4 linked regions of the Homo sapiens genome follow. The protein of the gene in region 2 interacts with the protein of the main gene of each other region in a pairwise test. Each region holds a gene or a part of one and is shown on either strand. Other genes may lie near its edges. The genes, in order: GULP1, EPS8, ARMC1 and TEX28.

Region 1 (3,597 bases), on a different chromosome or scaffold from region 2:
CTTAGAAAGTTAATTTAAATGCCCTTTTACTCATTTTTGACTGCAGCTGTGTAGCTATCTTATTTTCTAGGTAGTACATGAATTCATTATTGTTCTAGATGTAATAACATGCCTGAATTTAAAAGTTGAATTACTTAACATATGTCTTGAGGTTTTCAAAGAATCTATTAAAACAGTGTTTCTCAAGTTGAATGATTCTTAATCCCCTTTTACATAAAAATTGTTTTAGATCCTTAGTATTAACTTACAATTTTTAAATATTGACAAAAATGTTATAAACAACTTGTCCTTATGGTTTTTATAAAATTATGAATTCAATAAATTATAAATTAAATGAAAGCCAAATTGCAACACCAATACAGGACGGATGATCTTATTTGGTTAAAGCTAAAACCACCTTATCAAATTTCTATTGATTTCAACATGTATTCTATCTGATGGCACAGATTTCCTAGTTCTTTTCTATATTTCAAACGCTATGAAACTTTCAAATGGCGCATGATAATTTAGCAAGAATGCTGTATTTCATATGAAATCAATTCCTTTTCTTTTACATTAGTTTTACCCATTGGACATGTACTATCTGGTACTAATGCTTTTGTAGTAACAAAGAAATATTTATGTGGTAGTATTTATTCTCAAGGGTTGCACAGGTCATACAGAGTACTTCTCTAAAAATTTTTTAGATTTTCCCAAAATTGGAAAAAAAATTATGGAGTTTTAAGGATAAGCCTCTATTTCCAGATTTTGTTGAAACCAAGTGTGAGACACAATGTATTGGGATGATTGAGTGATGGTGACACTCAATGTTAAACCGTGGTGTTTTTGCTTTTGCTGTTTCTAATATTTTCTTAATGTCTTTTTAAATTCTTTACTGCTTTCATGGTGGGTAGCGCCAGAGATGGTTGGTATATTATTTTTATAATAATTTTAAACAACTTACAAATTTTTAAAGCTGAAACCTTAAAATTTGCATGCCTTATTTAATAAAAATTCAAACAACAGCTTCATATGGGTATATCTGATAATTAGTTATGTTTAGAGAGGTTTTATAAACCACATTTTAAGATTATTTTTCAGTGACTTAGTCACTATTGCATTGTTCACTTCATTGTTTCCTTTCTTTTCTTTTTTTTTTTGAGGCAGAGTCTCACTCTATCGCCCTACCCAAGCTGGAGTGCAGTGGCATGATCTTGGCTCACTGCAACCTCCACCGCCCGGGCTCAAGCAATCTTCCCTCCTCAGCTTCCTGAGTAGCTGAGACTACAAGTGTGCACTACCACGCGTGGCTAATTTTTGTATTTTTTGTTAAAAACAGGGTTTCATCATGTTGTCCAGACTGGGCTTGAACTGCTGGGCTCAAGCGATCTACCCACTTAGACCTCCCAAAGTGCTTGGACCACAGGCATGAGCCACCATACTTGGCCATGATTGTTTCTTTTAGTCCAATATTTACTTGCAAGGTCACTTTAACAAAAGTAAAATAATATTTTCTTCATCTAAAGTCTATGATGGCTTTTATTATTAATCGTGCTAGCCTAATGAATCTAATGCAGACATTTAGCTATCTTTGCATATCATATAAAAACTTAATATAGTACAATGGGTTGTGAACACCATATTGAGTTAATAAGCCTAGTGAGACATTTAGTTTTCATCTTTCATTTACAGAGTATTGTGACTAAGCTATTTTTAAGAGAATCGAATTATTAAGTTTGAAATCACAGAAACATCTCATGCATGTAAGCATTTATGCAGAAATGTTAGACCATATTTCAGTATAAGCAGTTAGAAAATTAAACATCTATTTGAAATCAATAATGTAGCTATTTGATTTGACATAATTTAAACTGTCCAGTACATGTCACCAACAGGAAAATAAGTGGAATAGTATTGATAGCCCACACTGTAACATGTGAGCTATAATAATTTAATACATTAAAAAACAAGCATGGCAAGTTCATGAATGATGAAAGAATCATGTATGAGTGGTGTTAAGTCAGCTAGCTAGTACTCTGGGAGAAGATCAATGTACTGCTGAAACTTACAGCAAATGCCGAGATAAATTTCAGAAGTAATCAACATTTTAAAATATTTAAAATATTATTGAATATTCATCAGACTTTTGAATTGAAAAGAAAATTTTATAAGGAAAAGAAAAATACGGACATATAGTATCCAATTTTTTAAAATTTACTGTCTAAAAATATATAAATACATTACATATACATAATTAAAGCAATTAGACAAATGGCTAGGAAACTAAAGAATCAACAGATAAATAAAAAAGCACTAGTTCACAAAAGAAGACCACAAGTGGCTTACACATATGTAGACATGTTCTGTCTAATCAAAGTAAACATATAAATCAAATAAAGAACTGTAATGCTATTTTAATCTAGCAGATTATTTTTTAAACTAATAATCAATCAATACAACTGAAAGTGTGATAAAACAAGCACTGTAAATTGTTGGCAGTCCAGAGTTAGTTCAGAGGTAACTATGGCCTAGCAGTCTCTTTAAAGGGTAGCTTGTTATTAATACTTTTATTTCTGTTTGATATCAAAACTTTAAAGCAATCTATTCTGATGAAAAAATAAGTATGAATGTGTTCAATCTCTGCGAATAAAAATACCTAGTCAACATTATTCATAATTTTAAAATGCTGAACGATTTTTTTTCAAATCAACGTAAAATGCATTTTTACGATGGAAACAATCATAAAAATTAATAGCATTTTATATAGTCATAATAAATTAGTTTTGTGGGAATTTAAAATAATCAGGGTCTGCAAAGATGAAAAGAGGAAGATAGAAAACTATATGTAATATATTACTTACATAAGAAAATTATATGGCATAAATATATATTCATATTATCATTAAAATCATTTTTAAAAATGTATAGATAGAAAAAAAGACATACCTCAAAATGTAGTGATTTTTCTTTCCTTGATATGCTTTTCTATTTCAAAATAAGAAAATTCATCAAAATCTTTCGTATAAAAAGCATATGGTGAATAATACTTTAATTATTTAATCATTCTTTTGTGTGACGTTAGCTTATGATAATTCCCATCACTACATAAGTAAATAAAGTCTCATTTTTATTAAGAAGTTTGAAGCTCAACAGGTGTGGGAAATTTTATCTGAGGAAGAAAGAAAATCAAGAAACCTTATAATATGTAAGGATCCTTAAAAAGTCAATATGGAGATAGATATTATTGTAAGTCATATACTAACACTTTATTATTAAAATAGTGATTGACCTCTGTTTTACTTTGGCTGCTATTCTGCTTTTCCAATATTGATAACACATTGACAAATAGTATTTTCAGGGTAATTGAAGTGATACTGGTTTACTAGCAGAATGAACTGATAAAATTTAAAAGTACCGTATGGTATCAAACATTTCCACATGTAACTCTCTTTCTATCTGTCATTATCTATCAATGTATCATCTATTTACCATTTGTAATATACCAGAAGATGACATAATATACAGATCTTCAGATATCCAAATAAAATAATTTTAAAGAAAAGTTTACTTACAGTATTTTAGTTTAAAGTATTTATTTTTCTAAGTATTTGCTGGCTG
Region 2 (2,974 bases):
GAAAAATGGGCAGTAGCTGGGAAAGGACATGGTAAAAAGGACTTGTTTAAAGGTAACAGAAATCATAAAATAATAGCATGTTTGCAGGCTGATGAACTGATTCAGTGAAGAAGGAAAATTAATAACAGGATAAATAAGGGAGAAATGACTCAGTATTTGAATAGGCAGAGAACTTGAGGCCTAGTGCATACATGGATAGTTAGCCTTGGGAGCAGGGAAACAGCTCTTATATAACATAATAGGAAGGCAGGCAGAACATATGGGGAAAGTGCTGTTAGGAAGAACTACTAGAGGAACTTACGGAGGTTTTCTTCTAACTATTTTATTCATAAATTAGGAAATGAGATCAGCTCAAGGTGAGGATTGGGGAATAGGGTTAGAAGTTTGTAGAGAGAAAGTAGAATATATTCAATACTTGTCTAAGACAGTGGGCAGTTACATGACCTTAGGCAGGACTTCTTGGCCTTTGAGGCTGGGTTATTCTCTGCTGTAGGAGAGGCTGACATTATAGAATGTTGTGTGCATCCCAGGCTTCTACCCACTGTGTGACAGCAGCAGCCTTTCCCCTTTTTCTCCCTCAATTGTGACGACCAAAAGTGTCTCCAGATATTCCCAAATGTCCTCTGGGGCCAAAACTGTCCCCAGTTGAGAGCCACCAGTCTAAGGAAATGTAGTATAATTGTCAGGAAGCATTAACAGCCAAGTTAAGGTTCATAATCATGAATTTAACATGAGATCATTCAGCATTGTTGTGTTATATTCAGCTGTGCAGGTGCAGGCACAGAATACGCAGAAAGTTAGGTTTAACCAGGATTGGGGTTTTGCCAAAGGAGTACAATGAAGAGACTAGAGAAGAGCCAGGGAGTTATTTTAATAATTGATCATGGCATTTATACCAGGCGAGGATAAAAGTGAGGAAAGATGGTAGGAACACTAGACTGTAGGTCCTACTGGGGTCAAGGATTATAGAGATTGGGGTTCTAGAGAGGGTGATGTAATATTAGGGATTTTCAAAAAGAACCTACTCCCTGTTGGTGTCTAGGAAGGAAATCTCAGATGGAGGAAGTGCAAGATGAACTCATCCACAGACTGACCATTGGTCGGAGTGCCGCTCAGAAGAAATTCCATGTGCCACGGCAGAACGTGCCAGTTATCAATATCACTTACGACTCCACACCAGAGGATGTGAAGACGTGGTTACAGTCAAAGGGATTCAACCCTGTGTGAGTCTCTCTGTGAATACTTTGCAATTCTGTGTGTACAACATGCATTGTTTTCAATTTGCTTAGTTAGATGTCACAGATAACTGTTATAAAACATAAGGGCACAGACTGCATACTTTGTGCCATACTCAAGAACTCACTATAGCTGTTCATAGCTGAAAAAGAACTAAAATAAGCATAAATAATTATTCTGATGCCACCCCATTTTCGAATTGGTAGTATCTGTTCATTATTAGTTCTTTAAGCAAACTATTGGCAGCTTTGAGGCCCAGTAGCTTCTTTTCTCCATCAGATTACTGTGATGTAACCTAGGTAGGACCATGGTCTTAGCTGAACTTCCTAGACCACATAGGACATAGAGCATAAGCTTTCCTCCTGCTGCAGGATATAGTGTCTCTGGCAAATAAAAAATAGTGTTACCTAGCATCAATTATAATCTTAATAGAACTTTTCCTTTAATAAACCCATAGTAAAGGTTCTATTTATCTATCTAAAAGTCTATAAACATTTCATATGTATTTGGCACAATGAACTATTAGAATAATACATATTCAAGGGACCTTGACATATTATAAACTCACCTACCCAGCATGATTGAAAAATGAGATACAATGGTTAGTCAATTGCCAGGTTACTAGAAAGTTATCTATTCCTTCTATAAAACACCAAATCCCAAGAATTGGTATTAAACAATGACCCTAAACCGAATTGGCTCATTTTTGATACTTTGTAATTAATAATCTGTATAGCCTCAGGGTCATCATCATGAAAGAAACTTGTCATTGCCCTAACTATAAAGACTGTAGTGGCATTTAATAAGGGTTCCAGGGTATGGAACGCTTAGAAAAGAGAAGTTACTAGCAGGAACAGATAATTTTCTCCTTTGTTTGTAGGCAATATTTTTAATGCTCAGTTTCTTTTTCCTTTTTTTTTTTTTAGGACTGTCAATAGTCTTGGAGTATTAAATGGTGCACAACTTTTCTCTCTCAATAAGGATGAACTGAGGACAGTCTGCCCTGAAGGGGCGAGAGTCTATAGCCAAATCACTGTACAAAAAGCTGCATTGGAGGTATGACTTGTCAACCTAAGGTGGTGTTTTTCTGCAAATTGAAAGCTCTGGAAACAACTATTTATGTCCATATTGGCCAATTTCCCTTTCTTAACAGAGCTGAATTAAATTTAACTCTGCTTTTGTAAATTTGTCACTGAGATCATCAATGACAGTTTCCAGAAGGTTAATTTGTTATAAATGCTCATATGATGTGAAGCTTGAGCACATACTTTTGGAAACTTGACAAAAAGCATAATGTTCTCATTTTATATGTATTGACTAATTCTATAGGAAATTTAATTTTGACATAACAATGGAAATTAGCTTCTGAGTGAGTAAGAGCCTTAAGAGGCCAGAATCCTTGCCTATTCTTAATATTTTTTTTTTTTTGGAGATTCTAATAACGTATAGGTTATAAGATTGTAAAACCCTGGCTGTGTGTGTTAGGTCTAGTAATACATCTCAATAATCGGGAAAGATACATTAGGTAGAGATCACTGAAAATAGAGAGCCTGGAAAAGTATTTAATCACAATGGTCTGTATGAAAGCAGGAGAGTCATGTTTTCTAGATTGCTTTATACTTAAGCTTCCAATATCCTATTTTAGACTTAAAATGTGCTATATACGGGTAGTAGTTTCCAACTGTTACATCTCACAGCTCTTAATAGTTTCATGAAAATTATACTTGGACTCAAATGA
Region 3 (3,500 bases), on a different chromosome or scaffold from region 2:
CTATTCGACAAAACCGCCATCGTCATCATGGCCCGTTCTCAATGAGCTGTTGGGTACACCTCCCAGACAGGGTGGCCGCCGGGCAGAGGGGCTCCTCACTTCCCAGAAGGGGCGGCTGGGCAGAAGCGCCCCCCACCTCCCGGACGGGGTGGCTGGCCGGGCGGGGGCTGCCCCCCGCCTCCCTCCTGGATGGGGCGGCTGCCGGGCGGAGACGCTCCTCACTTCCCAGACGGGGCAGCTGCCGGGCGGAGGGGCTCCTCACTTCTCAGACGGGGCGGCTGCCGGGCGGAGGGGCTCCTCACTTCTCAGACAGGGCGGCTGCCGGGTGGAGGGGCTCCTCACTTCTCAGACAGGGCGGCCGGGCAGAGACGCTCCTCACCTCCCAGACGGGGTCGCGGCTGGGCAGAGGCGCTCCTCACATCCCAGACGGGGCGGCGGGGCAGAGGCGCTCCCCACATCTCAGACTATGGGTGGCCGGGCAGAGACGCTCCTCACTTCCTAGACGTGATGGCGGCCGGGAAGAGGCGCTCCTCACTTCCCAGACTGGGCAGCCGGGCAGAGGCACTCCTCACATCCCAGACGATGGGCGGCCAGGCAGAGACGCTCCTCACTTCCCAGACGGGGTGGCGGCCGGGCAGAGGCTGCAATCTCGGCACTTTGGGAGGCCAAGGCAGGCGGCTGGGAGGTGGAGGTTGTAGCCAGCCGAGATTACGCCACTGCACTCCAGCCTGGGCACCATTGAGCACTGAGTGAACCAGACTCCGTCTGCCATCCCGGCACCTCGGGAGGCCGAGGCTGGCAGATCACTCGTGGTTAGGAGCTGGAGACCAGCCCGGCCAACACAGCGAAACCCCCTCTCCACCAAAAAAATACGAAAACCAGTCAGGCGTGGCAGCGCGTGCCTGCAATCGCAGGCACTCGGCAGGCTGAGGCAGGAGAATCAGGCAGGGAGGTTGTAGTGAGCCGAGATGGCAGCAGTACAGTCCAGCTTCCGCTCGGCATCAGAGGGAGACCGGGAAGAGGGGAGAGGGGAGAGGGAATTACTGTTACAGTTTTTATGCAAAACAGAAAGATAATTTATGTTTTAGTATTTTAATATTTTTTGTCACTATTGCTTCATTAAGCATATTAAACAGTTTTGAAATAATCCAGGTTTTCAAAAAATGTATGACAGTTATTGGATGTTTTATTATGTGTTATGATTCATTTTCTAGTTGATGCAAAACTATTGACAATGGAAAGGAGTAACAATAATACAGTTTTTCTTTCTTCTTTTTTTTTTGTGACGGAGTCTTGCTCTTGTTGCCCACGCTGGAGTGCAATGGCATGATCTCGGCCCACTGCAACCTCCGCCTCCTGGGTTCAAGTGATTCTCCTGCCTCCACCGCCTGAGTAGCTGGGATTACAGGCACCCACCACCACACCTGGCTACTTTATTTTATTTTATTTTATTTATTCATTTTTTCTTTTTAAGAGGGAGCCTCATTCTGTCACCCAGGCTGGCGTGCAGTCGTAGGATCTTGGCTCGCTGCAACCTCCATCTCCCAGGTCCAAGTGATTCTCCTGCCTCAGCCCCCTGAGTAGCTGGGATTATAGACACCTGCCACCACGCCCAGCTAGTTTTTGTGCTTTTTTAGTAGAGACGGGGTTTCGCCATGTTGGCCAGGCTGGGCTCGAACTCCTAACCTCAGGTGATCCACCCACCTCAGCCTCACAAAGTGTTGGAATTACAGGCATGAGCCACTGTACCCGGCCCTGTTTTTTTTTTTTTTTTTTTAACTTAAGTTCGTAAGTTTCTCTAATCATTGTCTCTTCATGCTCTTTATAACTTGTTCTTGGTTAATATTTAAAATATCTGAGAACTGCAGTGACTTTTCAATAAACTCTAAAATAGCTATCAATAAAAATGCTGAGGCAACTAATACAAATTAGTCCTTTTGATAGCTTTCTGTAACACACGGCTAAAGTCACCCAAAGTAACTTATCTCTGTGGTCAACAGTGGCTCAGAAAAGCACTTGATATAGTAATTGAGTGTCTGGAATACTGTCAGATTATCACCCCTGGAATTAAAGCTCTAAGTAGCTAGAACATATACAATCTGAGTATCAGAAATTGAAGTATTCCTACTCATTCACTAAATAACTTGCAAACATTTTTGTTAGGTTCTATGGAAGGTACAAAAAGGATACCTTCCTCCTCTTAAAGAGTTCATATACTTATAAAAGAAATAGAAAATTAAGATCAGTAGTATAAGTACAAGCATAGTACTCTGAATGCAAAGGGAGAATTGGGTTATTAGGTAGAGGCATTATATAGAAGGTGTTGGTCAAGCTGACCCTTCAAGCATTGAAATAAGAGTTGGAAAGCCTGCAGTCTGGGTGAAGCTCTTCCAGCTAAGGAAAGACCTGAACAAAACTTAAGGGTAGAAAGCATTCTAGAACAAAGAACATATAAAAATGCATGGTCTTTGTAGGAGATGGCCAAGTGTCATAGTCAACCCAAAGAATAATAGAAGGACAAAATGAGCTGATGGAGATAGCCAAATGGGGCCAGATTTTAAGGCCTTGAGTGTACATTAAAGGGTTTGGACTTAGTTGAGCCCATTGATAGGTGAAATGAGGATTCTTTTCTTACAGTTACATGTACTTACTCTTTGTTCAGTTCCACTAATAAGAGCCATTAGACTGTGCTGTCCAGTATGGTTAGCCACTCACTCTGTTTGGCAATTTAAATTAATTAAAGGTAAATTAATTTTTTTTAGTTGCACTAGCCACATTTCAAGTGCTCAGTAGCCTCATGTGAGTGGAGAGTGCAGCTATAGAACATTTCTATCATTGCAGAAAGATTATTGGACAGCACAGTCCCCTAGATGTTGATGTGAGGATCTGTAGTAGGATTTAAAAGCTTAAGAATGAAAACTTTTGTTAGAGCTGTGGTTTTATGATAAACACATAATTTGTAATATGTAAAAAATGTAAATTAAAAAATTGGTTTTAACATACAAAGAAATCTTGAAATTAGTTGATAGTATGAATGATCCTTTTCAAATTTGGTTTCTCCTTTTGGATTTTTATATGTTGTATTTTCTTAAAAGTCAAGGTACTTTCAAATTGAGAGTTGAATGTTAGTGATAATACAGGAACATGTTACAACCTGATCTTGTTAGTTGATTTTGTATTTGATTATTTTTATTAAACGTGTGGTTTTTTTTTTTTTTGAGATGGAGTCTCCCTCTGTCACCCAGGCTGGAGCCCAGTGGTGTGATCTGAGCTTGCTGCAACTTCTGCCTCCCGGGTTCAAGTGATTCTCCTCTCTCAGACTCCTGAGTAGCTGGGATTACAGGCATGCGCCACCACACCCAGCTAATTTTTGTATTTTAGTAGAGATGGGGTTTCAGTATGTTGGTCAGGCTTGAACTCCTGACCTCAAGTGATCCACCTGCCTTGGCCTCCCAAAGTGCTGGGTTTACAGGCATGAGCCACTGTGCCTGGCCAAATGT
Region 4 (3,597 bases), on a different chromosome or scaffold from region 2:
ATGTAGAAGGGAGTCTGGCCACCTGTGGGTCTTAGTGAGGCACACATGTAGAGCAAGGAGTCAGACGCTGAAAAGGAGGGGAGAGGGGCCCTGAAGATGAGCATCACCTCCTCAGTCTGTGTCGGGCCCATCTTGAATGCACAAATCTTGCGTGTGTAAGTATCCATGCATATGTGGAAGTGTTTTATGGAGTCATAACGTGTCCAATTCTCCCACACTTTGCGGCTCACAGAGCACCGTATTGTGATTTCTTGTTTCCCAACGTAGGCGGAACACACCAGGAGCCCCAGCGCAACCCTCCCCTCCAATGTGCCTTCATGCCGGTCCCTGTCATCCAGCGAAGACGGCCCCAGTGGCCCTTCCAGCCTCGCAGATGGAGGCCTAGCCCACAACTTACAGGATAGTGTCAGGCACCGCATCCTCTACCTCTCAGAGCAGCTGAGAGTGGAGAAGGCCAGTCGGGATGGCAACACTGTGAGCTACCTCAAGCTGGTATCCAAAGCAGACCGGCACCAGGTGCCGCACATCCAGCAGGCCTTTGAGAAGGTGAACCAGCGCGCCTCTGCCACCATCGCCCAGATCGAGCACAGGCTCCACCAGTGTCACCAGCAGCTCCAGGAGCTGGAGGAAGGCTGCAGGCCCGAGGGCTTACTGCTGATGGCAGAAAGCGACCCAGCCAACTGCGAGCCACCCAGTGAGAAGGCCCTGCTTTCAGAGCCCCCCGAGCCAGGTGGGGAAGACGGGCCGGTCAACCTGCCTCATGCCAGCAGGCCCTTCATCTTGGAGAGTCGCTTCCAGAGCTTACAGCAGGGGACGTGCTTAGAGACAGAGGATGTGGCCCAGCAACAAAACCTGCTGTTGCAGAAGGTAAAGGCAGAGCTGGAAGAAGCCAAGAGGTTCCACATCAGCCTCCAGGAGTCCTATCACAGCCTAAAGGAGAGGTCTCTGACTGACCTGCAGCTGTTGCTGGAGTCCCTTCAGGAGGAGAAGTGTAGGTGAGGCCTTGGCTCTGGGGACTGGAAGCAGAGGAGGAACCGCTCCCAGGAGCCACCTATGGGAGGGTGAAAGGGAGCCAGGACAGGAGCCTGGAGAGCCAGGGTGAGGGGCCAGTTGGAAGAGCAGGTCCATGCTTCTTTTAGCGACTGGGCCCTGCAGTGGGGCGAGCCAGCCCTCTCCCTGCAGTCCCACACCTGCCTTGACCCTTGCTAGCGAAAATGCTCCAGCTTGGCAGCCCCTGCCGGGTGGTTGCAGCGGCATAGCGGCTGGCCCTGACCCTGTGGTGGCAGGGGACAACATGGGGGTGGCAAGAGTCCGGTAGACACCTGGCACTAGTTAGGGAGGTGGCGTCCTTTGGTCCCAGTCGGCTGGGAAGGTGGGAGTCAGGACCGGAGTCGCCTCGCCAGCTCTGGTCTCTTCACATGTGCTCCTAGCTGAGCTGGGGCACAGGCCGGGTCTCAGATACTTATTTCAAAAATGACTGCCTTCTGGTGAATGCTTTCTCCGCACCGTGCAGTAGCTCGATTTTCTTTTTCTTTTTTTTCTTTTGAGATGGAGTCTCACTCTGTCGCCAGACTGGAGTGCAGTGGCACGATCTCGGCCCACTGCAACCTCCACCTCCCGGGTTCAAGCGATTCTCCTGCCTCAGCCTCCCGAGTAGCTGGGAATACAGGCGTGCACCAGCACATCCGGCTATTTTTTGTATTTTTAGTACAGGCGGGGTTTCACCATGTTGACCAGGATGGTCTCAATCTATTGACCTCGTGATCCGCCTGCCTCAGCCTCCCAGAGTGCCGGGATTACTGGTGTGAGCCACCTCACCCTGCCCTAGCTCGATTTTCTTTCCCTCTAAGATAAGGCTAGGGCCTACCAATTGGAGGAAAAAAAAAAAAAAAAAAAAAAAGGCAAACCCAATCTCTCAACGGATTCTCTCCATTCCTATTGGGACCGTTCTCTGGGTTTCCATGGGCCCTCAGGGGGTGCCACATTCTGTCCCCCTCGCTGCAGTCTGTGGCTAATTAACGCCAGTCCCTCCAGCGTCCTGGCTAGGGAGGCAGCGATTCCCTTAGGTGAGCCAAGATTCTCAGCATTTGCATGAAAAGAAGAACTCCGCAGTCCTTTTAGTGCCTGATGCAGGGGAAGCGGCGTGTGGGAATCATCCTCTTTAGTTTCCCCAGGGAAATCTTGCCAGCGTTTACATGGCCTAAGAATCTGTTAAAGGACAATCAAAGAATATTACAGGGCAACCACTGTCAATGAGATGACTAGTCAGAGTCACAGGCGTCTCTTGCAGATTATTTTCATAGGACATGGCAACCAAATCTAAAATCTTGGGAGCATCAAAGACCCTTTTGTGAAAATCACACTTACCCGGTCAGCTTTCTATTAAGCAACAGCAGAACTTGGTGGCAGTTACAAACTTCCCCGTATGTTTCCAAGCCACAGGGGCCAATGAGAATGCTGTGCTCAGGTAAACTCTTAACCCCTCTCAAATCCGAGTCTTTCGCCCGCTCTTGATACAGCGGTGACTACCGGGGAGCAGGGCAATACCTCTGTCTCTCCCCCTCTCAGACTTTTGCTGCAAATTCTAGAAGCCTGCACTTCTGACCCGGTACCCCCCATTGGACTGTGACATGGGATGTCTGGTTGTTTGCTGCAGCAGCGAGCCTACCCTTACTAATGTTCATCGTGAGCAGAAAAGCAGGTCTACAGGGCCCAAGCAGGTCTACAGGAGGAGAAAGGGCTGCTGATGATTTTTCACTGTTGTCACGGGCTCGTAACTGAGCTGGGGCACCAGGTTAAGCAGCCTTGTTCTTTGGCCCTCAGACGCCTACTTTATGGTTGGGGAAGCAGAGTCTCACGGAGGCACAAGCAGGCTACGTGGCTGCTAAGTGCGGACCTGAGAGCATTTCACCACACCCTGGCTGTGTGGCTAAGTTAGATGCAGGGGACACAGGAGTTCATGGCATTTTAAAAACATATACTTCCGTAAAATCTTCTTCAAAACTTTTACATGATCTGGACACAGAAGTGTTTCAACCAGCCAGGCTCCCTGTGACTGTTGCGTCCCCTCTGGTGCATCACAAACTGAGAATCCATACTGCAAGTCCTGTGCTGTTTATCACAGTTAAATCCGTTTGCTTTCAGGAGGGCTGTTGTGGTTTTTATCATTATGGTTTCTTTTTAATTTGGTCTCGGCATGTCTCTACTGAGAGTGGCCATAGCCGAGATACCCAGTTTCTAGGAGATCCCTGACCCGTGGGAAAGTTAGGTTCGGATGTGTGTGTCAGGGGAGCCACAGTGAGGAGGCAGACGAAAATGCATGAAACAGCAGAAATGGGCTGGGCGTGGGGGCTCACGCCTGTAATCCTAGCACTTTGGGAGGTTGAGGTGGGCAGACTGCTTGAGCTCAGGAGTTTGAGACCAGCCTGGGCAACATAGTGAGACCCGGTATCTACAAAAACATCAAAAAATTAGCTGGGCGTGATGGCGCGTGCCTGTAGTCACAGCTACTCAGGAGGCTGAGCGGGAGCGGGGATCCCTTGAGCCCGGGAGGTTGAGGCTGCAGTGAGTCATGATTGCACCACTGCACTCCATTCT

The links.
Region 1: the proteins of EPS8 (region 2) and GULP1 interact in a two-hybrid assay, tested with the Homo sapiens proteins (one large-scale study listed by BioGRID and IntAct).
Region 3: the proteins of EPS8 (region 2) and ARMC1 interact in a two-hybrid assay, tested with the Homo sapiens proteins (one large-scale study listed by BioGRID and IntAct).
Region 4: the proteins of EPS8 (region 2) and TEX28 interact in a two-hybrid assay, tested with the Homo sapiens proteins (one large-scale study listed by BioGRID and IntAct).

What each region holds. Positions count from the first base shown.
Region 1 is NC_000002.12:188,588,847-188,592,443, forward strand, and holds part of GULP1 (PTB domain-containing engulfment adapter protein 1), read left to right. Parts: exon of another isoform or gene 1-893; coding exon of another isoform or gene 894-904; intron 905-3,597. UniProt on the Homo sapiens protein: May function as an adapter protein. Required for efficient phagocytosis of apoptotic cells. Modulates cellular glycosphingolipid and cholesterol transport. May play a role in the internalization and endosomal trafficking of various LRP1 ligands, such as PSAP.
Region 2 is NC_000012.12:15,622,476-15,625,449, reverse strand, and holds part of EPS8 (epidermal growth factor receptor kinase substrate 8), read left to right. Parts: intron 1-1,042; coding exon 1,043-1,223; intron 1,224-2,162; coding exon 2,163-2,292; intron 2,293-2,974. UniProt on the Homo sapiens protein: Signaling adapter that controls various cellular protrusions by regulating actin cytoskeleton dynamics and architecture. Depending on its association with other signal transducers, can regulate different processes.
Region 3 is NC_000008.11:65,613,678-65,617,177, reverse strand, and holds part of ARMC1 (armadillo repeat-containing protein 1), read left to right. Parts: intron 1-3,500.
Region 4 is NC_000023.11:154,285,078-154,288,674, reverse strand, and holds part of TEX28 (testis-specific protein TEX28), read left to right. Parts: intron 1-267; coding exon 268-995; intron 996-3,597.